Linked DNA regions of Homo sapiens: region 2 is linked to region 1. Evidence: fine-mapped expression QTL. A gene starts in region 1. The other region holds a variant in brackets. All regions are shown on one strand. Distances are between the middles of the regions.

Region 1 (11,031 bases):
TGTTGCTTGAGCTGACTCTAGCCCAAGAACTCAAAATACCAAACCTCCTTGTGAGACATTTTAATGAGGTTAATCCTTCTTCAATTTGGGGAACAATTATTATAACAAATATCATAGAATTCATCAAAACCACTGTTGTCATTTAGCCACTTCTTGATGTTCTTCCACTGTCTACAAAGGTTTGTCTTAGATCATCACTGGTGGGTTCCATTTGTCTGCAAAATCTTTACCAGCTCTTAACTAAATAACTGAACTTGTTATGACCATCCTTGCCAGTTCTCAGAAATTTGCCAACAGCCTTGTTAATGAATAATGTAGGGTTTTGTGAATTCCCTCATGGCCTGGCCCAAGTAAGGGTAGGTTTTCTGGGTCAGTTCCTAAAGGCACTCCTGACTAGAATCAGTCATCCATGCCGCAACTTTCCAAACATCCCCTGCCTGCCTACCTGCCACCTCCGAGAAAAGGGACAGGACCACATACTGGGGCCTCAGTTGGAGCTGGGAGCTCTTTTTTAACACTGGTCTCCTAAACCCTGCCCTTCCAATTCTTTCCACCCCTCTGAGAGCAAAGTTCAGCCACCAAGATTGTTAATCACAGAAACAATGACATTTTGGTATCTCAAAGGAGCAAACTTGAAGGTCATCTTTCAGTGCAAAGACCCTTAGACTTGAGAGCAGACAGGCAGAATGACCATGTCTTCTGTGTATAGTACACCATCACAGTGCACATGGAAATGACATGCTGGTGTATAGTTCCTATTTCTCCCTCATATTTCAGAGGCGGAAGCCCCTCCCAGAAGTTTCCTCTGAGTTCCCCAAAGCTGGATTCAGTGTTCCTATAGCCCTTCGATTCCCCTGATTGTGACATTTACCAGCCTGACTTGGATTCGTCTGTTTCTTTTCCAATATTTCTCACCTGACCTTCCTGAGGACAGAGAGTGGGGGTGAGTCCCTGCCGCATGGCCAGCACCTGGCAAGGTCATGGCAGGAAGGAGGTGTTCCCGATGTGTGTGTGGAATGAAGGAAGGCACAAACGGGTCCGTGTGAGGAAGGGACAGACCTGCCAGGGAAACTGAGGTATAGAGTTTGATGAGTACCCCCAAATCATCTGCTTAAAAGCAGGTATAAAATGTAAGGTCCTCTGGTGCCTAAAGCACACTCATCCTGTGTACACGTGACTATTAATAATATATAGCATTGATAATTCTGTGAATCTAGTCAGAGTACATGAACATTGTGTCTTCTGGTTGGTCTTAAAGTTATGTCCCTTCACCCTAGTCCAATTCCATCTATTAATATAAAGAGCTTGCAGATATAAGGAATAGCTTCACCAATATCACTCCTGAGATCCTGGGCGATGCTGCTCTTGTTGGGACTGATTCAGAAACCAGCCTTCTCTTCTAAACTACATTTCCAGTAGAACATGGTCCATACTTATATGGGAATGAAATCTCACTTAGTTTGAACTCTAGGTCATTCAGTCCCAGAGGTGGTGACTAATGGTCAGGAGATGACAGTATTGCTGGACAAGCATCACCACACTGAGGGGAAAGTTCACGTTTCTAATCCTGAGAAATAATCTGTTAAGAAGCATCACACAGAACCAGCTAGAGGGGAGTGTGAAAGCTGCTGCAGGAAGGGTTCATTCCGCCCAGTGCAACTGAGTGACTAAGAGTAGAGGGTGCTCACAATCAGAACACTGCTGGCACGTGTTTGTCTGGAGCCTGCAAGCTATTCCTCCTTTCTTGCTGAAGAAAAGTGGAGGAAGGGAGGAGCGGGGAGTAGAGTGGTAGGTTCAGCGTGGGATAAAATCAATGGTTTAGAAAATCCACCCATGAGTACGTAAACAATATGACCATAGCAGATACAGCAAATACAAAATTAAACAGCCTTTCATGAAGAAAAAACAATAAGGGCAATTCATGCCTGGCACACAGCAGGTGATGTCTGGATGTACAAATGCAGGTGAAGTGTGATTCAGACAGTGCAAAGGAGAGGTAAGCCAACAGTCACTTCCACTGGCTTCTGAATGAGGATCTGATCAAATCCACAGCATCTTATCATTCAAAATGTGCTTTTAAATTATGTTTTGCTTGGATCAGTATTGAAGCTATTTCAGTGTTATGGTACATCTAACAGCTGATTTTGGAAGGAGGTAAGCCAAAATGTTATTGATGGCATGAAAAGTGAGACAAATTTTAAAATTAGGCAGATTCAGTTTTTAAGTGATTTTCTTGTATACCCATACATCATCTGCACATTAAGCACTTTTCTCTAATTAAGCCAGGGAAAATACAGAGTAATGATAATATCTGTGAGGTCAGCTGTGATCAGAAGTGCCCACAGGCTGCATCTCTTAAAAACAGTCCATGGCACCTCAAGGGACACTGCAAAGACAGTGGCCGGGAATGTAATTGAGCTTTAGGAAATGATTAAAGGGAAGTAAAATCATCTCCAACTCAACATTAATGCGTTTGATTTCCCGGGTGAGAACAGGATTTGCGTAACTGAGTGGTTCTTTCTTTCTACAGTCCTGGATGTTTGGAAAGCCAGCTCTTACAGTTAGCTTTCTTTGCTTTGCTAACATTATCCATCAGAAAATCGAAATGCAAACAGCTCCTATTTCCCAATGAAGAACTTTCTCTGATTTACCTTACCATCATCAGGCTTCACCATCTCACCTTGGAAGCGTTCAATCTTTTGGTCAATATTTCTAGACCAAAATAAAGTGCTCTCAAGCCTGTTCTTTGGAAAGTATTTTGTCATCATTACCAAAGAGTGTTTAAATAACTGGCTATGAAGTTTGGGGAGACTGGGCTGGGAGGTACAATCTGAAGTTAATTGCTGATGTAATCATTAGTCCTTTCAATACCCAGTGGAGAAGCTGCCTCCAGGGAGATAAGCTCTCAATTAGGAGACGTGTGTGTATATCACCAGTTCTCTCTGGCATGTAACAGTTAACAATTTCTATACAGTTAAGTGGATTTAGTGAGTATCATTCTTCCAGGAGAGAAGTAAAATTTTTTTTTAAAGAGGAAAACAAAGAACAAGATTAAGAACAGTAAAAGAATAAGTATGGAAAATCTGGTAAGTAGCAAAAATCATTTTTAAGCATTTGAGGGAGAAACTGCAAAATCTGTTCAGAAGCCACACCTTCCGGCCTGTGGGACTGCATGGCTGTGACACTGAGCAACAGCTGAAGTCTTTATTCTCTCGGAGGGGAAGGAAAAAAGGAAACAACAGTCAGTCCAGGCTTGTCCACGGCTGGAAGCCTCGACTCCTGCAAACCTCCTGCAAACCGATCTCCCAGATCCTTTCTGGGCAAGCACATAACCAAAGGAAATGAAAACTAGAAAAACAATTTGTGCATGGAACAATGACATGGAGTTTCACTTTGGTTTCATGCTCAAATATGAATGTGGTTATAATTTTTTAAAATATATATTAATAGAAGGCAACGAGTTGAGGATGGTGGCTTCTTCAAGCCGGGCGTCCAGAAGAGCCCCACTTCTGCCTTGGAGCGCGCCTTAGGCAGCAGTCGTGGGAAAGCTCAGATACAGCTGTTTCCAGGCAAAGGGCCCAGAGCTTTTCAGCCTCAGCCACCAGGGTCTCCAGACAAGGAGAAATACGCCCAAAGCTGCTCCCAGGGGCTAGGAGCTCGGAGCTCCCAGTGTGGGTCTCTGAGCAGCGCGGGGTGGGCGCTCCCGGCCCTCCAGCCCCCAACTCCCTCGCGCACCCGGGACGGGTGAAGGCGCCCAGCTGCCGAGCATACCCGCGACGCGGGTTCAAATCCCGCCGGCTCCCAGGCACCCTCACCCCGCCACAGCGCGGGCTGTTTCTCCTCCCTTCCCCGGAGGAATTCCTTAACTCTCCAGTACCCATACCATAACAAAGGAGGCTCGGTCCACCAATGCGCGATCGTAGCCTACAGGGACCCCCAACGAACCCCGGCCCAGAGAATGCACCTGGCCGTGCCACGCGCGACCCCCGAGGGGCAGGCGGACGGGTCCAGGCGCGGACAAAGGGGCCTCTCGGGGCGCCCAAGCTCGGGGCGGGACGCCGGGAGCGGAGCTGGCCGGGAACTCACCTTCGCAGCGGCCCGGCTGTGCTCCTCGTGGAGCAGAAGGGCGGCGGGCAGCAGCAGCAGCCAGACGCTGAGCCGGGGCCCCATGGTGGCGCGCCCGAGGCGGCGAGGGACGGCTGCCCGGCGTGCGGGGGCCGCGGCGGACAGCTAGCTCTCGGAAGGCCGGACTTCCAGCGCTACGCACCGTCCCGGGTGCGGCGGCTCCAAGCGGAGACCTGAGCGCGGCGGGCCGAGCTCCCCAATTTGTTGGCGCTGCCCCCTCCCCCCCGGCGGTGCGCGGGCGGCGCCTCAAAGGGGAGGACCCTGCGGCGCGGGTAAGAGGCGGCGGGAGCGCGCGGCCCGGGAGTGTGGCTGCAGTGCGCCGGGACACCAGGGCTCCGCGCTCCGCACTCAAGAGGCTCCCGCGTCCCAACCCCTCGCGCCCGCGCGTTCGCGGATCCAGGCCGAGGACCGAAAGGGGCCGCCCGAGCCCCCGGGGCCGGCGCCCAGAGAGCCCAGCAAGGCCGGCCGCCCTGCCGGTGTGCCGCCGGCGGGTGCTTCTGGAAGGGCCAATGCGTTCGGGCAGCAGCCCCTGAAGCCGAGCCCGAGGTGAGAGCGACCCCCGAGCGGCGCCCAGACCCTGGCCCGAGAGCACCGACTTGGAGCGCCTTGTGCAGGCTAGGGCTGCACGCTCTCCTGCTTGGGAGTAGAAAGGGGGAGGGTGGGAGAGCGAAGACCGAGCTCCTCGGCCAAGGAGCACCCACAGGGGCCTAACGGGAGGCTCTCCTTCTTTCCGGGTCGTGGGGGGGACGGCCCTCCGGTCACCCCTGCATGCGGGCCGCGCACCGCGCTGTCCCCGCGTCTCGCGGACCGAGACCGGCGGTGAGGATGGGCTGCCTCCCTCATCCTGCGCTAAACTCGCTTTGTCTGTCGCCTCTAGGCTAAGTGGGACTGACCGGGGCCCAGAGTGGACGAACCGCCAGCATGGGGAGAGACCAGCGCGCGGTGGCCGGCCCTGCCCTACGGCGGTAAGCGACTTTCTGCCTGGTCCCCGTGGGTCACGCGCGCATGGACCCTTCGGTGTAACTCTCGGGGACTGACAAGCCGGGCCCGCACGTTCACGTCTCTCTTCCTCCCTTTCCCATGCAGGTGGCTGCTGCTGGGGACAGTGACCGTGGGGTTCCTCGCCCAGAGCGTCTTGGCGGTAAGTCCTGGCTCCCGCGCTTGGACTTGCGCGCCCGAGAGTGGTTGGGACGTTTGAGTGGCCTTGGAGAAGGCAGCTCGTCCGTGCGCTCCCGAGTGTGTGTGTGCGTGTGGATGTTCGCCAGGCTGCCCACCAAGGTTCTGAGAAAGCTTGCTCTTCCCTCATCATGCTTTCCACCTTTCCTTCCCCTTGGGTTCCCAGCGTCAATCCTGTGTTTTGCAAGCGTCGGCCTTTCACGGGAACTGGGAACTTAAAATGTAGCCTGAGGCACCGTTTTCGTTGCTTTGGGCAAAGCTGCAGCCGTAGAGGCCAGGAAAGTGTGTCAGTCACTAGGCAGTGAGACGCCAGGCTTAGGGCGAAAAAAGTTTTCCTGGAACTCGGGAGCTGGTGGGGAGTCTCTGTCACGGACTGAGGGTTTTTTGTGTTTTTAAATGGGAGTCTCTGGGTAAAGGGGCGGGGCGAGGAGGCGAACGAGACAACCTTAGTATTGTTTGAATTGAAGCATTGCGAGGGAACAATGGCAGAAAAACCGCGTTTTCTCCCAAGTCCTGTTCCGGCCCTGGAAGAGCTGCTCCGGGCGCCACACTGGGATCCTGTTCGCCGAGCCTGCCCCTCCACGCCGGCCGTGCACAGCCCTGCCGATACCGTGGGTGCAGCTGGCGACTGCACTGCGAGGCTTTGTCCATTTTATACGTTTTGTTTAAAGAGTAGGAGCCACTTTTACTGAGCTTTATGTAACCATGGCTAAAATGAAGAGGTTTGGTAGGTGAATTCGGTGCAGGACTCAAATGTTTAGACAGGAGCTGAAAGCGGAGGGAGCTTTCGAGATGTCCGCTGTCCCTCCTCTCCTTACTGTGGCCGATGGAGTAGCCCTGCCCTGTGGCAGCCGGGGCCCAGGTGGATTCCTCCTGGGAACGACCCCTCCCTCCTCAGCGCGCACTGTGCCAGAGCAGTACACAGGTACAAAGGGCAAACGTGTTCATGATTTCATTTGAATTCTGTTGTTTTTACATCGTTCTGCCCTGATGTAAAACAAACCAGGATTTTAAAGGCAGTGAGTGATGAGGAGCTACTCCCACTTGGGGAAGAGCTGCTAACTTTACTTTTCCGCTGCTGTTGGTTCCGGTTCAAAGCTCGGTTTGGGAAGTAAGAGGAGGACTCGGAGACTTTGACCAGAGCACTCCAGGCCAAAGTTTTCTTCCAGTTCAGGTCTGTCTCTTCGTCCCAGCCCCGACTTAAGATCAGAACCTAGATATTTGAACTAGCCCAGTGACCCTGTGAATTCTAATGCACAGGTCTGTACTGCATGTAAGACTTGGCTCAGATTTATGAACCAGAAGCAATGCATGCACGCGCACGCACGCACACTCAAAGAAGGGGGCGATCCCTAGAAAATACCACATCGGGCTGTGTGTGCTTTGGTTGTGCTGCCACCTGCACCCCTTTGTCCCTTAGAGCCACTTTTATAATTTCCATATGTTCATGCCTAAGGATGGTGGGAGTCCCAGGTATTCTTTTCTGAACTCATCCTAAAATTGGTAGAAAGACCACCAAGCACCTAGGTCTAAAGATCTAGGTATTAGCCTGGGCATGGCGGCTCACGCCTGTAATCTTAGCACTTTGGGAGGCCGCGGCCTGTGGATTGCCTGAGCTCAGGAGTTCGAGACCACCCTGGGAGAAACACGGTAAAACCCTGTCTCTACTAAAATACAAAAAAATCAGCCGGGCTTGGTGGCGCTTGCCTGTAATTCCAGCTACTCAGGAGGCTGAGGCACAAGAATTGCTTGAACCCAGGAGGCCGAGGTTGCAGTAAGCCGAAATAGCACCACTGCTCTCCAGTCTGGGCGACGGAGCAAGACTCTGTCTAAAAACAAAACAAACAAACAAAAAAAACCTAGTTACTAAACATAGCTCTGCCCTAATCTCTTAAATCCAGAGCCCCAGTTTCCGTACTCTGAAGAATTACGGCTTCACAGAGGCCAAGTGCCCTAAGGCAGATAGGACACCTCTATGCCTCCCCAAAACCTCATCATTGCTGCAAGCTCACCCCCAGTCTCTTTGACTCTTTGATCTTTGGATGGCACCAAGAACATTGATTGCCCAGCAGAGCTTCTCAAAGTGCAGGCCCCCTAGACCCCCAGACCTAAACCCTGAAAGGCTTGTTAAGAAGTCAGGCCCCATCTCAGACCTTCAGGTCAGACATTCCAGGGTGGAGTCCGGGACTCCGCCTCCCCACATGATACCAGAATCTGGGAACCACTGAGCTACAGTATTGGGTTGAGAGGCAGTTGAGATTACTTGCCAATTCACTTTATTTTCCTGGGCTTTAGATTCTAACTCAACCAAAAAAAATAGATATTTTTAATCATTTTACTAGGGACCTAGTAATATGTGTTGTTAAGAGACATGTAGTTTGTTACGTTCAACAAGGGGCTGGTCTTCTACTTACTCACTTCTTGGTAACCACTGGCTTTAATGGCTGTTCCTTGTGAAATAATGTTTCAATTTTCAACTGTATTGATTAAAGATTTTTCTTAATTGTGGCAAGGACTCTTTCCTGCGTAGGTCAGTTCAGGAAAAAGGGCTGCCGCTGGGAGCCCTTTGGCTTGTTTTGTTTCGGAAGCAGCTAGGATGGGCAGTGAAGAGCCTTGGTGATTACTTATTGGGCACTTCCTGTGTGCCAATTTGTCTGTACTAATGCTTCTAATCCTCACAAGCAAGCACACTGATGAGCTAGGTAACTATTATTACCCCCATTTTACAGGTGAGAAAAGCCACAAAGGGTTTGCAGCCCTCGCCCAAGGTTCCTGTCTTTGTAACTGAATGAGACGGATTAGAACCCAGGCCTCTTCCTCCACACCGAGCTTCCCAGGGCCTGAAAGGTGGCCGGGAGGGCACTCCTGAGTTTCAGTCTTTGAGTCTCCTGGGGTGTGGGTGCTTTCTTCTTGGTCTTGACCGTGGACTAACAGTGGAGCGGGCACTGATTCCTAGGAAGGAGGCTCTCCCCCTCCTTCCTCCTCTGCTTCTCCCACTGTGAGGATCAGGGGCAGCAAGTGAAGGAGAGAAGCAAGACCCTTCCCAAAGGGAGGAAAGGAAGCCGAAATCCCACGGGGCAGCCTGGGCTCTAGACTCAGTGTGAACCCAGGTGATCTGTGTGGGCACCTCAGGACACACTCCCTGCTGTCCAAGGTGCCCTTTCTAAAGGTGCCCTTGTTTGAATGTGGTGCCAAGATGCACAAAATGGCTTCGTGTAAGGCAGTGTGACACAGGGGTCCCATCCCAGACTTGAGGCAGGTGACGGGGTGCAGTTCTCAGTCTGGTGGGCAGCTGAGGGGCTGCCGCCTGGGGCGGACATTCGCCAAGCCTCTGCGTCCTAGTTCTCCTCTCCCCCAAAACGGAGGTGTTACTCATCCCACCCACCTCATAGATGGGGGTGCTGTGAGGTGTGTGGGTGCATGTGAAGCGCCTTGGAGGGTCTGGCACAGCCTGGGTGCCAGGAGGTATCCCCTGGGCCTGTTTAAGGGACTTCCCCTCGGCTGCCTATTCTAACCTTCATGGAGGCTTGAAAGCACTCACTGTAGCCGCTCTGAGCATTGTCACCTATCTCCAGAGGCTGGCAGCAGCCTGAGGGATCAAATATGCAGCCGGCTGGGTGGTCACCTGAGGACCTCTGGCCGGGACCTGGGGCCACAATAGACGTGGGTTCACGTAGGCATCAGTGCGGGGCCCCTGCCTGCCACCCTGCCGCTTAGTTTCCAGGCTGTCCTCGGGGCTCCAGCCCCAGGAAATTCGCCTGACCTTCCTGTTGGCTGCCACCGCCTTCCCTGCCCTCCAGGCCGGCAGCTGCGGTGGCAAGTCCTTTCCGCAGGCTTTGGTACAGGGAGGAGAGGTGTTCATGCCGCACGAGGCCCAGAGCTTTCTGTAAGGATCGGGAAGGACAATTCTTTCCTGCATTTCCTGGAGCTGAAGCGCTATTGCTCAAAACATGGCCCTCTGAGAAGAAGGGAAAAGCACGGGGTTCCTCCTCTGCTCGTGGATAAACAAGCATATCTCAGCTCTCTGGAGGCTGTTAAAGTCTTCCTCCATGGGTGGCTTGTAGGACTTGGCCACGATAAATAATAGCAGAGATTTGTCAGCAGCATCCCAGAAGGAGAGGTGGGTAGGAAGGGTAAACCGAAAAGCGCAGGAGAGGAAACAGGCTCTGTACGACCAGGCGGCTATGTTTACAACCAGAGAGAGAGAGGTGAAGAGGAAAAGGTTCTAGAATAGAAAAAAGATTTTGCTAAAATAATAAAAATCAAAGAACTGTGTTTAATTGTGTTTCTGGGGAGAGGGAAAGAAAATGGATGTGTAGTTTAAATAATAGAGAAACTCAAGGGAAAAACTGAGTGCCATGGAGATTTAACTTTTCAACCCTGTGTTGATAATATAATGAAGAGATCACCATCTAGAAAGTGGTTTGAGAATGTCTCATTCTTTTTATCTGAAGAAGAATGTTTGTCTTTGATTAGAGGGTTTTAGAGAAAGCTCTGAAACTGGCCTCATGCTTTGTGTCTGCTGGTGTCTACTGTGTGATCACTGCTGAAGGTAGGAGGCAATGTCTGCAACCCCCAGCCTTGGCTGATAGAGCTTGTGAATCAGGGACCAGGAATGACACAATAGTCTTGAGAGGCCATAAAGTCTAATCCAGCCTGTTGCTAACCGGGTTCTGACTTCAGGGCAAGACACTTTACGTGCTTTGGCTCTGGAGCCTGGAAGAGAATGTTGTGTGGAATGGATCTCTCAGGTGATCAACATACCATGAGTAAGTTAGAGGTCAGCAGTGAGGGCTGGCCTGTGCAGGTGTGCTAAGACCTGTGAGGGTGAGCCGGGGTCTCCGCTGTGATGCTGGGGATGAGAAAGCCCTTCCAGATAAGCTCCAGAATAGAATCTATCCAGCCTGCACCAGGATATCGCTTAGAAATCAATATGCCACATGGGACTTTTTATCTTCACGGTGTCGAGAAGCTTCTGGAATCCAGTAAATATGTGACATTTCTCAGTTGAGATGAGGAAAAGGGCAGAGTTCCTGGATAGTCCCCTCTTGCTGTTTCCCTCTGGTGCCCACTCCCTTCAGTTAATGAGACCCTGTCAGGACAGGTGACGGCCTAAGTGACTCACTGCTCTTGATTTCATTGGTGGCTCCGGAGGACGGTAATTTTTATTTTGGTTACCCCTGAAAGGAGAAGGCGGCATCTAATTCTAGGGAGACTTCACAGGTGTCTCCAGTCCTGTTGATGTGGCCAGAGAGTGAATTTCAAAGGACGTGCGAGCAGCCGGCGTCCACCCGGCAGGCTCCCACCCCGGTGCCCCGCGTCCACCCGGCAGGCTCCCACCCCGGTGCCCCGCGTCCACCCGGCAGGCTCCCACCCCGGTGCCCCGCGTCCACCCGGCAGGCTCCCACCCCAGTGCCCCGTGTCCACCCGGCAGGCTCCCACCCCAGTGCCCCGTGTCCACCCGGCAGGCTCCCACCCCGGTGCCCCGCGTCCACCCGGCAGGCTCCCACCCCAGTGCCCCGTGTCCACCCGGCAGGCTCCCACCCCGGTGCCCCGCGTCCACCCAGCAGGCTCCCACCCCAGTGCCCCGTGTCCACCCGGCAGGCTCCCACCCCGGTGCCCCGCGTCCACCCGGCAGGCTCCCACCCCAGTGCCCCGTGTCCACCCGGCAGGCTCCCACCCCGGTGCCCCGCGTCCACCCGGCAGGCTCCTACCTCGGTGCTGGGTTCC
Region 2 (11,031 bases), 200 kb after region 1:
TGAGTAAGTGCTCAACAAATACTTGCTGGAGAAGAATATTGTGAAATTGTAGGATAATTTTCTGACATCAGTGGAGAGTTACGTGTAGCTCAGAACACCCCTAAGGTAACATTGATGGCCTTATTACACATTTGATCTGTGTGGGACCCATTTATCAAAACTCTCCGTGACCTCCTGTGGCCCTCCTTGCATTCCATCCCAGGGACCTGGACGGTGTCCCCGGCTTCCAAGCCACCGTGCGGCATGCTGACTTTTGCAAGCCATGCCCCCACCCTCGACCTGCATGAACGTCACAGTGGGCCCATGAGCTGATGACTTCAGAGCAGGTCCTGGAGGCCAGGGCAGACACTGCCCAGTGCCATTGGGCCTTGGCATATGAGGCCACTGCCTCTGGCTAGTGATGAGGGAAAGACGACCTTCCATGATGACGTTCACACACTGATCATAATGTCATTCAGGACACACACTCTTCTCTCAAAATATGGGAATAATTTGAATCCGTCATCTTCCTTCGCATGAGTTGCATCTCATTTGTATTAGTTCGTTCTCATGCTGCTATGAAGAAATACCAGAGACTGGGTAATTTATAAAGGAAAGAGGTTTAATTGATTCACAGTTCTGCATGGCTGGGGAGGCCTCAGGAAACTTACAATCATGGCGGAAGGGGAAGCAAACACATCCTTCTTCACTGGCGGCAGGAGAGAGAAGTGCTGAGTAAAGGGTGGGGGGAGGCCCCTTATAAAACTATCAGATCTCCTGGGAACTCACTATCACGAGAACAGCATGAGGATAGCCACCCCCGTGATTCAATTACTTCCCACCAGGTCCCTCCTACGACATGTAGGGACTTTGGGAACTACAAGTCGAGATTTGGGTGGGGACACAGCCAAACCGTATCACAGCTCACTGAAGCTAGAGTCTGCAACCTCACCTATTTCTGCAGCTGACATTCGAGCATCAGTTCCTGATTTGGCCTTGAGTCATGCAACATGGGCCTTCACGGAACCCCTGTTAGTGAGACTCTTTTATGTCAGTACTTAGGACGATCCATGGGGGCTACTGAGAAATCATAGCGGTTTCCGTCTAGATTCCAGCAAACTGACTCATGTTTGCTAAGTGTTCTCATTAACAGTCCTCATCACTGCAGTTAAGTTAATTATGTTTTCGTGGGAATCTGCCAGTCTGCGGATTGCACTGGATCATCTAACTCAGGAGTCTGCCATTATTTACTGACACTCACCATCTGTTTCGGGTACTTTGTGACAATAGCTAGAAGCAGTTCAATTGGTGTCATTTTATATCAAACTACAGATGGTGGCTCACTCATGCCCTCAGGGCTAATGAACCCACTTGCATGTTGTCTGTGATTTGTGAGACAAGCCTCACCTCTCTAAATATTTATCCTGCTGTTTGTTTTGTCCTACTTGGAAGCACGCATGAATGGAATCCTTTCCCCTGGGATGGATAATGGATACCAGGATCTTCCAAAGGGAAAATCTCTTCCTGCTGCTGATGCGTGTAGATTAGTCATAAAGCCAGAGGGGAAACAGAAAACCACTGTTGCTACCTTTTCTCATTTTTATAGATTTGCACTGTTTCGCCCAGCTCACTATTTCCTGCAGAGCAGAAGTGATGCCCTCCTTGCCCACTTGGACATTCTGACATTTTGCAGGGTTCTAATACTAATCTTGGTCCCCAGCCCGAGGTAAAACAAAAGGCTGAAGGTGCTTAGGAGAGAAAGTAGACTTAATCCGCCCACTCAAGTCCACACTGATTTCTACCCACCACTGCCCTACAGCACATAAAGCTCCATTAGTGTCTTGTTGGCTGACAGCACAGGGAGGAGTGGAATTTCCACAGATTTCCTTATGTGGCCATTTCCCTCTTACTCTCCTACTAGTGCCAAAGAGCTCCAGCCTTTGACCCAAAAACTGTTGGTTCTCATTATTCGCAGTAGTTATGTTCTGAAGTCACCAAGAACACTGACTTAGTGAATACTGAACCATTGCTCCTAGGGGAAATACAAGGCTAAGTTCCTGCAAGCCTCTGCTCACAAGATGTTTGTCAATGATCAGTATATAAGCTGGTTTTCTGTGTAACGGCACCTTGTTTAGTGTGGATTGCTGATTCAGGAACAGTCAACATGCACTCACTCGTGCCTGAATGCAGCTTCTCTTACATATGTGTTTCTCCATAAGGGACTTCACAGCCTTCTTGCACTTACCAACAGTAGGATGCACTTCAACACAATACATGGGGGGCATTTGAAACAGCAAAATCACCAGCATAAAGCACAAAAATGTGGAAAACAGGGCACTACAGAGACCAAGACAAGGACACGTGTGTACAGTATGAGCTGCAGCAAGAAGGCAGGAGCGTCACCTTGCTGGATCTCAGCTGGGACTCATTTTGCCTCTGTGTATATCTGTGAATGCCAGTGTTGATTTGGGGGGGATTCCAAGTGAGTTTTAGTGAGTGGACAAATTGGGAAACACAGAATCTGTGAATAATGAAGACCAACTCTATCCAAGCTGGGATCCGAGGCACTGGAGGACAGCCGCAGGGAGGGTTGACAATAGTGATGTCAATTGTAAGCCTCATTTGCAATTTTTCAACCTTCTGTCCATCACCTGTGCTGACCACTGTCCACACATATCAGGATCAGAGTCTGACCAGCTGTGCCTCGCCTGGTGCTGAGGCTCCATCTAAGCATGATCGGGCAGCGCCTTGGGGAAGTCGAGCACAGGCAGACAGGATCCCAGTGGAGGGCTCCTCACAGGAGAAAGGCTGGGGTGGGGGAGGGGTTCACATAGCCCCTGCCCCCCCAACCCCGCCCTGAGGGCCTCCCCAGCCCCACCATGAGATGTTCCTTGGCCTGAGGGCACCTCCCATCACTGTCTCGCTCGCTAGGCTCTGGTCCACCACAGGTGATGGTGTGGAGGGAAAATAGTAGATTTGAAAAGTTGGGTGCTAACGCTGAAAATAATTTCTTCTGTTTTCATCCTAAGGGGAACGAGGCCCACCTGGGAGCCCAGGACTTCAGGGGTTCCCTGGTATCACACCCCCTTCCAACATCTCTGGGGCACCTGGTGACAAAGGGGCGCCAGGGATATTTGGCCTGAAAGGTAAGCAGGACTTATACATCTGTGCTTCGACATCTCTAGGGGCAGGAGCTGGCAATGGCCCGCTTAATGTAGGGGGAGAACAGACGTTCATTTCCACGCTGTGCCCAGACTCCGGTCAAAGAGGCAGGAGCCATGATGGCTCCTCCTGTGTCATTTCCATCACCTGCACGACCTGGTCCCTGGGAAGCTGAGACACAGGCCATGTCATTTACTTGCTGTAATAGCAGATATTCAAACTGCAGGGGGCTCAGAAATGTGCAGTATGAACGGCTTTCTTCTTCCTCACTGTATTGTGTTTAGACAAGTATTAAATTTAATTTGCACTTCCTAATCACGAACGAGCTGAATATTGGAAAGAGATGGCGTAAAGATGAAGTCACCCGTCAAACAAGTGTTTGTGCGTCAAGGTTCACAGCAGCACTACTCACAAGCACCGAGTGCTGAAAGCAACCCGAGTGTCCATCAACAGAGGAATTAAGAAGCAAAATGCAGTCAGTATCCACCCAGTACAAGAGGAGTCCGTCTTTTTTGTTGGGTTGTTTTCTTGTTTTTTGTTTTTTGAGACAGCCTTGCTCTGTCGCCCAGGCTGGAGTGCAGTGGCACGATCTTAGCTCGCTGCAATCTCCGCCTCCCGGGTTCAAGGAATTTTTGTGCCTCAGCCTCCTGAGTAGCTGGGATTACAGGTGTCCACCACCAAGCCCAGATGATTTTTGTATTTTTAGTAGAGACAGGGTTTCACCATGTTGGCCAGGCTGGTCTCAAACTCTTGACCTCAAGCAATCCTCCCACCTCGGCTTCCCAAAGTGCTGAGACGACAGGTGTAAGCCACCTTGCCCAGCCTTTATTCGGTCTTAAAAAGAAGGAACTCTTATCACCTGCTACCACCTAGATGACCCTTGAGGGCATTCTGCTGAGTGAAAGAAGCCAGTCACAAAAGGTCGGATTCTGTGATTCCACACATACGAGGCCCCTGAAGTCATCAAATTCATAGAAACAGAAAGTACAATGGCTGTTGCTGAGGGTTGGGGGGAGAGGGACACGGGGAGTGCGTGTATAACGGGGACAGATTTCAGTTTAGGATGAGAAAGTTCTGGAGCTGGTCGGCGGTGAAGGTGAATATATTGAATGCCACTGAGCAGTGCACCTAAAAATGATTAAAATGGTAACTTTTATGTTCTACGTATTTTACGACAATTTTTTAAAAACATAGACAAAGTCATTCCATGCCACAGACTTGCCAGAGACTGTCGCCTGAATGGGTGACGGTGCACCTGACTGCCCCCAGGGGCCTTGGGGCCCTGTTTAAACCCTCCTTTCTTGTCCCTAATGCCAACAGGTTATCGGGGCCCACCAGGGCCACCAGGTTCTGCTGCTCTTCCTGGAAGCAAAGGTGACACAGGGAACCCAGGAGCTCCAGGAACCCCAGGGACCAAAGGATGGGCCGGGGACTCCGGGCCCCAGGGCAGGCCTGGTGTGTTTGGTCTCCCAGGAGAAAAAGGTAACAGTGCCCATGGCCATGGGCCAGCAGCCCTGGCCACAGTGAGAGGAGCCCCCTCCCCACAGACTTTCGTGTCCCTAACGTCTTGTTTGTGTTGCAGGGCCCAGGGGTGAACAAGGCTTCATGGGGAACACTGGACCCACTGGGGCGGTGGGCGACAGAGGCCCCAAGGGACCCAAGGGAGACCCAGGATTCCCTGGTAAGTGACCGTCTGGTATCTTCAGAGCTAGTGGCTCAGCCCAGCCTCTCCAGGCTTGGGGACATCCTGGAGGTCAAACGGCCAGGATCCTCTCTGGCATGGGTCACATGTTGTAAAGAGCAGGGAGGAAACCAAGGCTGTGCCTCGGATGTTGTCACAGGACCTTGGGGAATGGAGAGCTT[A/C]ATATTCAAACGGCAGGCGCTGAGTCACGGCTCAGGCCCGTTAGTGTCTGGCTCATCTCTAGAAAGCACAGTTGTCTGGGAAGCTCCAAAAGAAGCCTCCCTGGTGAGAAACGCAGTAGCACTCGGAGCAAGAGAGTGGAACGACCTTGTGTGTTTACTGGGGCCTCTCTGTTTCCCTTCCAGGTGCCCCCGGGACTGTGGGAGCCCCCGGGATTGCAGGAATCCCCCAGAAGATTGCCGTCCAACCAGGGACAGTGGGTCCCCAGGGGAGGCGAGGCCCCCCTGGGGCACCGGGGGAGATGGGGCCCCAGGGCCCCCCCGGAGAACCAGGTAGAGTGCTGAGCTGGGGCCTGGAGCCCCTCGGGGCTGCCCGGGCAAGGCCAGGGCCTGCTGGCATTGCGTCCTCTTGTGTTCTCTTTGTGGATCGCCGGCCGTGCCAGGCGTGGTCAGTTTCCAGCCATAACGCTTCTTTGGTGGCTTGCAGGTTTCCGTGGGGCTCCAGGGAAAGCTGGGCCCCAAGGAAGAGGTGGTGTGTCTGCTGTTCCCGGCTTCCGGGGAGATGAAGGACCCATAGGCCACCAGGGGCCGATTGGCCAAGAAGGTGAGTGACAGTGGGGAAGGACCTTCCCAGGTCCTAGTGCTCTGGATCTGACTCACAGACTGTGGTCTGCAGGAAGGGGACACACGAGAGCCCAGAAAAGCCAGAAATGAGGCGCTGCCCCACCCTCCTGCTCCTAATCTGGGCGTAGCAGCTACACTCCTATGCCCAGCAGAACACCTGGCCCCGAGTCCTGGGACAGCCTCCCTCCTTTTCCTGGGACACCTGCGGTGCTGTGGAGTGGGCGGCAGGGATCAGTAGACTTCAAGGGTCAGGATTAGACAAGGAGCCAAAAGAAACCGACTATTAAAATGTACAAGAGCCGCACTGCGAAGCCCTGTCTTACTTTTTTTTCTTTTTTGGACAGAGTCTCGCTCTGTCTCACCCAGGCTGGAGTGCAGTGGCGCAATCTCAGCTCACTGCAGCTTCTGCCTCCCGGGTTCAAGCGATTCTCCTGTCTTAGCCTCCCAAGTAGTTGGGACTACAGGCATGTGCCCCCATACCCAGCTAACTTTTTTGTATTTGTAGTAGAGACGGGGTTTCACCATGTTGGCCAGGCTGGTCTCGAACTCCTGACCTCGAGCGATCCGCCAGCCTTGGCCTCCCAAAGTGCTGGGATTACAGGTGTAAGTCACCGTGCCTGGTCGTCTTATTTTTTAAAATTATTTGCACATATACAGAATGAAATAGGCCAGGAATAACAGCTATTCATGAAAAAAAAAAACCTCAAAATTTGTCTTAATCAACCTGAGCTCAGTTTGAGCCAATGGTCTGAGCATTAAAATTAAAATTAAAATTAAACATAGGGGCCGGGCGCGGTGGCTCACGCCTGTAATCCCAGCACTTTGGGAGGCTGAGGTGGGCGGATCACAAGGGCAGGAGATCGAGACCATCCTGGCTAACACGGTGAAACCCCGTCTCTACTAAAAATACAAAAAATTAGCCGGGCGTGGTGGCGGGCGCCAGTAGTCCCAGCTACTCGGGAGGCTGAGGCAGGAGAATGGCCTCAACCCAGGAGGTGGAGGTTGCAATGAGCCAAGATCGCGCCACTGCACTCCAGCCTGGGGGACAGAGCGAGACTCCGTCTCAAAAAAAAAAAAGAAAATTAAACATGGGTAGTACTATTGGTGTCCAAGTCAAAGGAAATAGCAGTCCCCTGCCCCTGGGGACAGATCCGCAGCCGGCAAATTATGGGTAGTGTGGGGTGCACCTGAAAACAAATGCCAGCAAATGGGAGCCCGCCCAGGGTAGGAGACAAGCTAGGGATGGTGGAGGGGAAGTGTCCTGGGAGAAAGGGCCATGACCATGGGTGTCCCTTGGAAGGGGAGGGGACAATGGGAGAAAGGGTCACTGGGGATAGCTGAGAAATATTCACAGAGCTGCTGTGCTGGAGGCAGATGAGCCACCCCCGTGTGCTCCTCGGGTAGGAGTTACAGGAGGCTGCACGCAGAAAGAACATTCTAACCCAGGCTGTGGTCAAGTGCGCAGTCAGCATGGCCTGCGATGAGCCATGTCTCCTGGAAGTGTCCAGCGGAGGGAGGCCACTGCTGGGGGTGGGGGCTGGCCTGCGATACTCCTCCGGACACTTCCAACGCCAGGCACGTTGGGCACATCCTGAGGGGCACATGCCTACCTATGGCTGACTGAGTCTTTTATGGAAAGGACCCCTCCTCTGTGCCCAGTGCCCTCACTGCCATCATTTCATGCTACTGAGAACAAAGTGTGGATCAAATCCTTCCCAAGAGTCTCCTGATCTCAACAGACTGAGCCCCAAGATCTGGGGAAGGAGAGCGATGGTTCTAGGCGCACCTGGAAACTGCCCTGCACTCCTGGGTCCCGAGGTTTCTGTGGGGCGGCTGTCAAGGGGGCTGCTCTCTCTCTCTTTCTCAGGCTGCAGGTGCACTAGGCCGTCCACTCTCTCTCTCTCTCAGGCTGCAGGTGCACCAGGCCGTCCACTCACTCTCTCTCTCGGGCTGCAGGTACACCAGGCCGTCCACTCTCTCTCTCTCTCTCTCTCTCGGGCTGCAGGTGCACCAGGCCGTCCACTCTCTCTCTCTCTCTCAGGCTGTAGGTGCACCAGGCCGTCCACTCTCTCTCTTTCTCGGGCTGCAGGTGCACCAGGCCGTCCACTCTCTCTCTTTCTCGGGCTGCAGGTGCACCAGGCCGTCCAGGGAGCCCGGGCCTGCCGGGTATGCCAGGCCGCAGCGTCAGCATCGGCTACCTCCTGGTGAAGCACAGCCAGACGGACCAGGAGCCCATGTGCCCAGTGGGCATGAACAAACTCTGGAGTGGATACAGCCTGCTGTACTTCGAGGGCCAGGAGAAGGCGCACAACCAGGACCTGGGTAGGTACCTCCCACCCGGCCCCCGTTGCCTGCTCAGGGCTGGCCCGGAAGTGGCCAAGATCAAAGGGCCACAGCGAGACTCCCAAACCCTCCACGGCTGGTAAGTTCCCCTGACGGAAGGGTCCATCTACATTCCTCGAGTGCAGAAAGATTAAAACGGCCTTTGAAGCAGAAGCCTTACAAAGCCCTTAAACCTCAGGACCTTAACACAGGGACCTGCCTTTTAACCTGGTATTGACTTCCGCAGGCTCCCATGTGACCCGTCTGACCCCCGACCCCTCTCCAGTGGAGACCACCAATTACTTCACCTCCTTCTTGTTTTTGACCCAAGTTCTGTAGACTTGGAGTCAGGCAGGGGCCATGAGGGGCTGGGGTTCATGTAAGACTCTCCCATACAGCCCCCCGAGGAAAATGGACCCATGGACACGTGTGCATGCTCTTATTTAAGGAAGCCTTTGAAAGGCATTAACGCGACTTCGAATACAGAAAATGCAATACACACAAATTACAAGTGGAGGTAGCTTAGTCTGAGGTCCTCTTTGAGGGGGTGACGGGAAGGGTCTCTGGGATACTGGCTGTGTTCTGCCTCCTCGGTGCAGGTTACATCAGGCGTTCTGCCCCCGGGAAGCATGTTGCTGGCTCATGGTGCCTTCACATTCCTGCCTGTGCGCCCCGCCTCCACAATGAGTTTCTAAAGAACAACGGGGCAAAGGCCGCCAAGGATAAGGGCCAAAAATAGATCTAGGAACAGGGCCAAGGAGGCAGCCTAGCACCGGGCATGTTTGCTAAAGGTGGCTGCACTTCTGGGTCTGAGCTTTTCAGCAATCCATGTGAAGAGGGAAACCTGCTTAGCTGCAGCATTCGTTGTGGCCAGGAGATAAAGGCTATCTTAGTCTCCAGAAGCAATAAAGCTACATGGAAGGGAGAAGGGCCAGGACTCCTTCTGGGGTGGCTCCTTGGGGTCAAAGAGCGACCCCTTGGAGGCCATCAGAGTTTTCTTGGGGCCAGTGCTGTTAAGACCCCACTAAGGTAAGGCTCACCCAAAATGCTATTCCATGAAGACGCCACTCCCTGGTGATCCAACTTGGCCCAGTATGTGTGAGAACTTGTAGAAGAACAGAGCTGTTCCAAAATGCCAGTGGAGTCTGATCAAAAAGAGAAAAAGAAAGAAATTGGGAAGCCTTAGCCTGGCCCTCCAGTAGGTGGCTAAACTCCACCAGGTGCCCTGGGGCGAGTCCGTGACACACAGCCTCCTGGGCCTGGCTGGGGCTGGCAGGTGCGTCTTCTAGCCACACTGCACTGTGATCTCATGACCCCTCCTTCCACAGGGCTGGCGGGCTCCTGCCTGGCGCGGTTCAGCACCATGCCCTTCCTGTACTGCAACCCTGGTGATGTCTGCTACTATGCCAGCCGGAACGACAAGTCCTACTGGCTCTCTACCACTGCGCCGCTGCCCATGATGCCCGTGGCCGAGGACGAGATCAAGCCCTACATCAGCCGCTGTTCTGTGTGTGAGGCCCCGGCCATCGCCATCGCGGTCCACAGTCAGGATGTCTCCATCCCACACTGCCCAGCTGGGTGGCGGAGTTTGTGGATCGGATATTCCTTCCTCATGGTATGTGGTATTTGCCCAGTTCCCCTCCCCAACCACACCCTGCTGGGGACACAGCAAGAACAGCTGCCTTTGTGAGAAGAATCAGACACGGCAGTCCAGGGTGTGCACTGCACAAGGGTAGTTGGCCCAGGAAGCGAGCGAGAGCTGGAACACAGCTTACACTTGGCTAACTGAGCCACATGCTGGGCACAGGGCTTCCTCCACCCAGAAAGGGCTCATTAATTTGCCACCAGGCCTTTGTAAGGAGTGTAACCAGGACGAACTTGCCTGTTATCCGTCTTACTAGGTACAACACCAACACCAAAGGTGCAGCTGCTTTGGGTTTACCAGAAGTCTAAATATATGGGAGACTTTTCTCTAGAATCCTGATCTTATTTAGAATCTATCTGGAACCTAGAATACCCTGAAGAAATACCTATTAACTGGCTGGCTTAAAATGGATATATATTCGTGAGGAAAATTCTGGAATACCTTTGGGTATAAAATAGAGAGCCTGTGGATACTTTGAAAGCCAGGAGAAGGTGCACAACCAGGACCTGGGAAGGCACCGCCCACCCTTCCGGATCGCCTTTGGGTATAAAATAGAGAACCCTCAGCTTTGGCCAGATTAGGTTTAGCTTAACCTCCAGGGGAGAGACCACAGCACCATAGTGTCTCTTGCAATATTGCCTATTAAAGCAGAGGCTCCTCAACTTGGAATAGGGTCCCGTCCCGATAAATTCATTGTAAGATGAAGATACTATAAGTTGAAAGTGCGTTTTCAATTTATGATGGGTTTATCTGGATGTAACCCCACCAAAAATCAAATAGTGAATTGAATACATATTGCTTTTGCACCATCGAAAACTCAAAAATCCTAAGTCTAACCATGGTAAATCAGGGACCATCTGTATACTATTGTAGGGAGAAAAGAAAGTCTCACTGAGGACAGTGGGTCTTCCAGTGAGTTTATTTATATGCATTATAACTGTCATAACTCCAGCTATATGGATTGGATGCCCAGCATGTTAAATATTTCATAAATTATATATATATATATATATATATATACACACACACACACACACACACACACAACATAAAATATAAATTACATAGTGATTGCTAATCTTTCAAAACAACAGGAAAAAAAATCCGGATTCTAGGAAAGGAAGGAAAAGATAAACAAGTATTGGCATTTTAATAGGTATCGTTGCTATGATAAGTTGGAGCAACAGGATGCTAAATCCTGGGCAGGGACAGGCACAATTTCTACCTTTCCAGAAGCTTATCATGGAAGGTGACTTTGGAGCAACCTTCTTTTGTTTCACAGTGACCTTCAGGGTGCCCCTGTGTCAGGAAGTAAGCTTTGGTTGCTCCTGTTTTTTTCACTCCCGTTGTTAAATTCAAAATAAATGAGCCTCTCCCTTGTGAAGGGCATGATTACACAGTATCCAGAAAGGTCAGGCATCCCCTGTTCCATTAGCATC

Alleles and levels. Alleles are on the strand shown, and positions count from the first base shown. SD is a standard deviation of normalised expression in the study named.
For the expression in monocytes after LPS of the gene that starts at base 4,427 in region 1, allele C in region 2 goes with a lower level than allele A (large effect, 0.77 SD a copy in Quach 2016).

The links. PIP is the estimated chance that this variant, and not a neighbour inherited with it, causes the effect.
Region 2: its variant is fine-mapped to the expression of COL4A2 in monocytes after LPS (Quach 2016, PIP 0.95).

Annotation. Positions count from the first base shown.
Region 1 is chr13:110,302,858-110,313,888 of GRCh38, forward strand. COL4A2 (collagen type IV alpha 2 chain) reads left to right here and starts at 4,427. Exons shown (of 48, transcript NM_001846.4): 1 at 4,427-4,671; 2 at 5,003-5,090; 3 at 5,212-5,266. The coding sequence starts at 5,047. It overlaps COL4A1 (collagen type IV alpha 1 chain), which reads right to left and starts at 4,300. Exons shown (of 52, transcript NM_001845.6): 1 at 4,087-4,300. The coding sequence starts at 4,170. RefSeq lists enhancers at 4,056-4,889, 4,890-5,722.
Region 2 is chr13:110,498,660-110,509,690 of GRCh38, forward strand. It overlaps COL4A2 (collagen type IV alpha 2 chain), which reads left to right. Exons shown (of 48, transcript NM_001846.4): 41 at 3,009-3,125; 42 at 4,462-4,623; 43 at 4,724-4,822; 44 at 5,188-5,334; 45 at 5,489-5,605; 46 at 7,756-7,947; 47 at 9,276-9,562. COL4A2-AS1 (COL4A2 antisense RNA 1) reads right to left here and starts at 9,520. Exons shown (of 3, transcript NR_046583.1): 1 at 9,440-9,520; 2 at 8,988-9,092; 3 at 3,917-4,269. RefSeq lists enhancers at 287-786, 4,189-5,118, 8,941-9,442, 9,443-9,942. The variant A/C (reference allele first, on the strand shown) is at 5,005.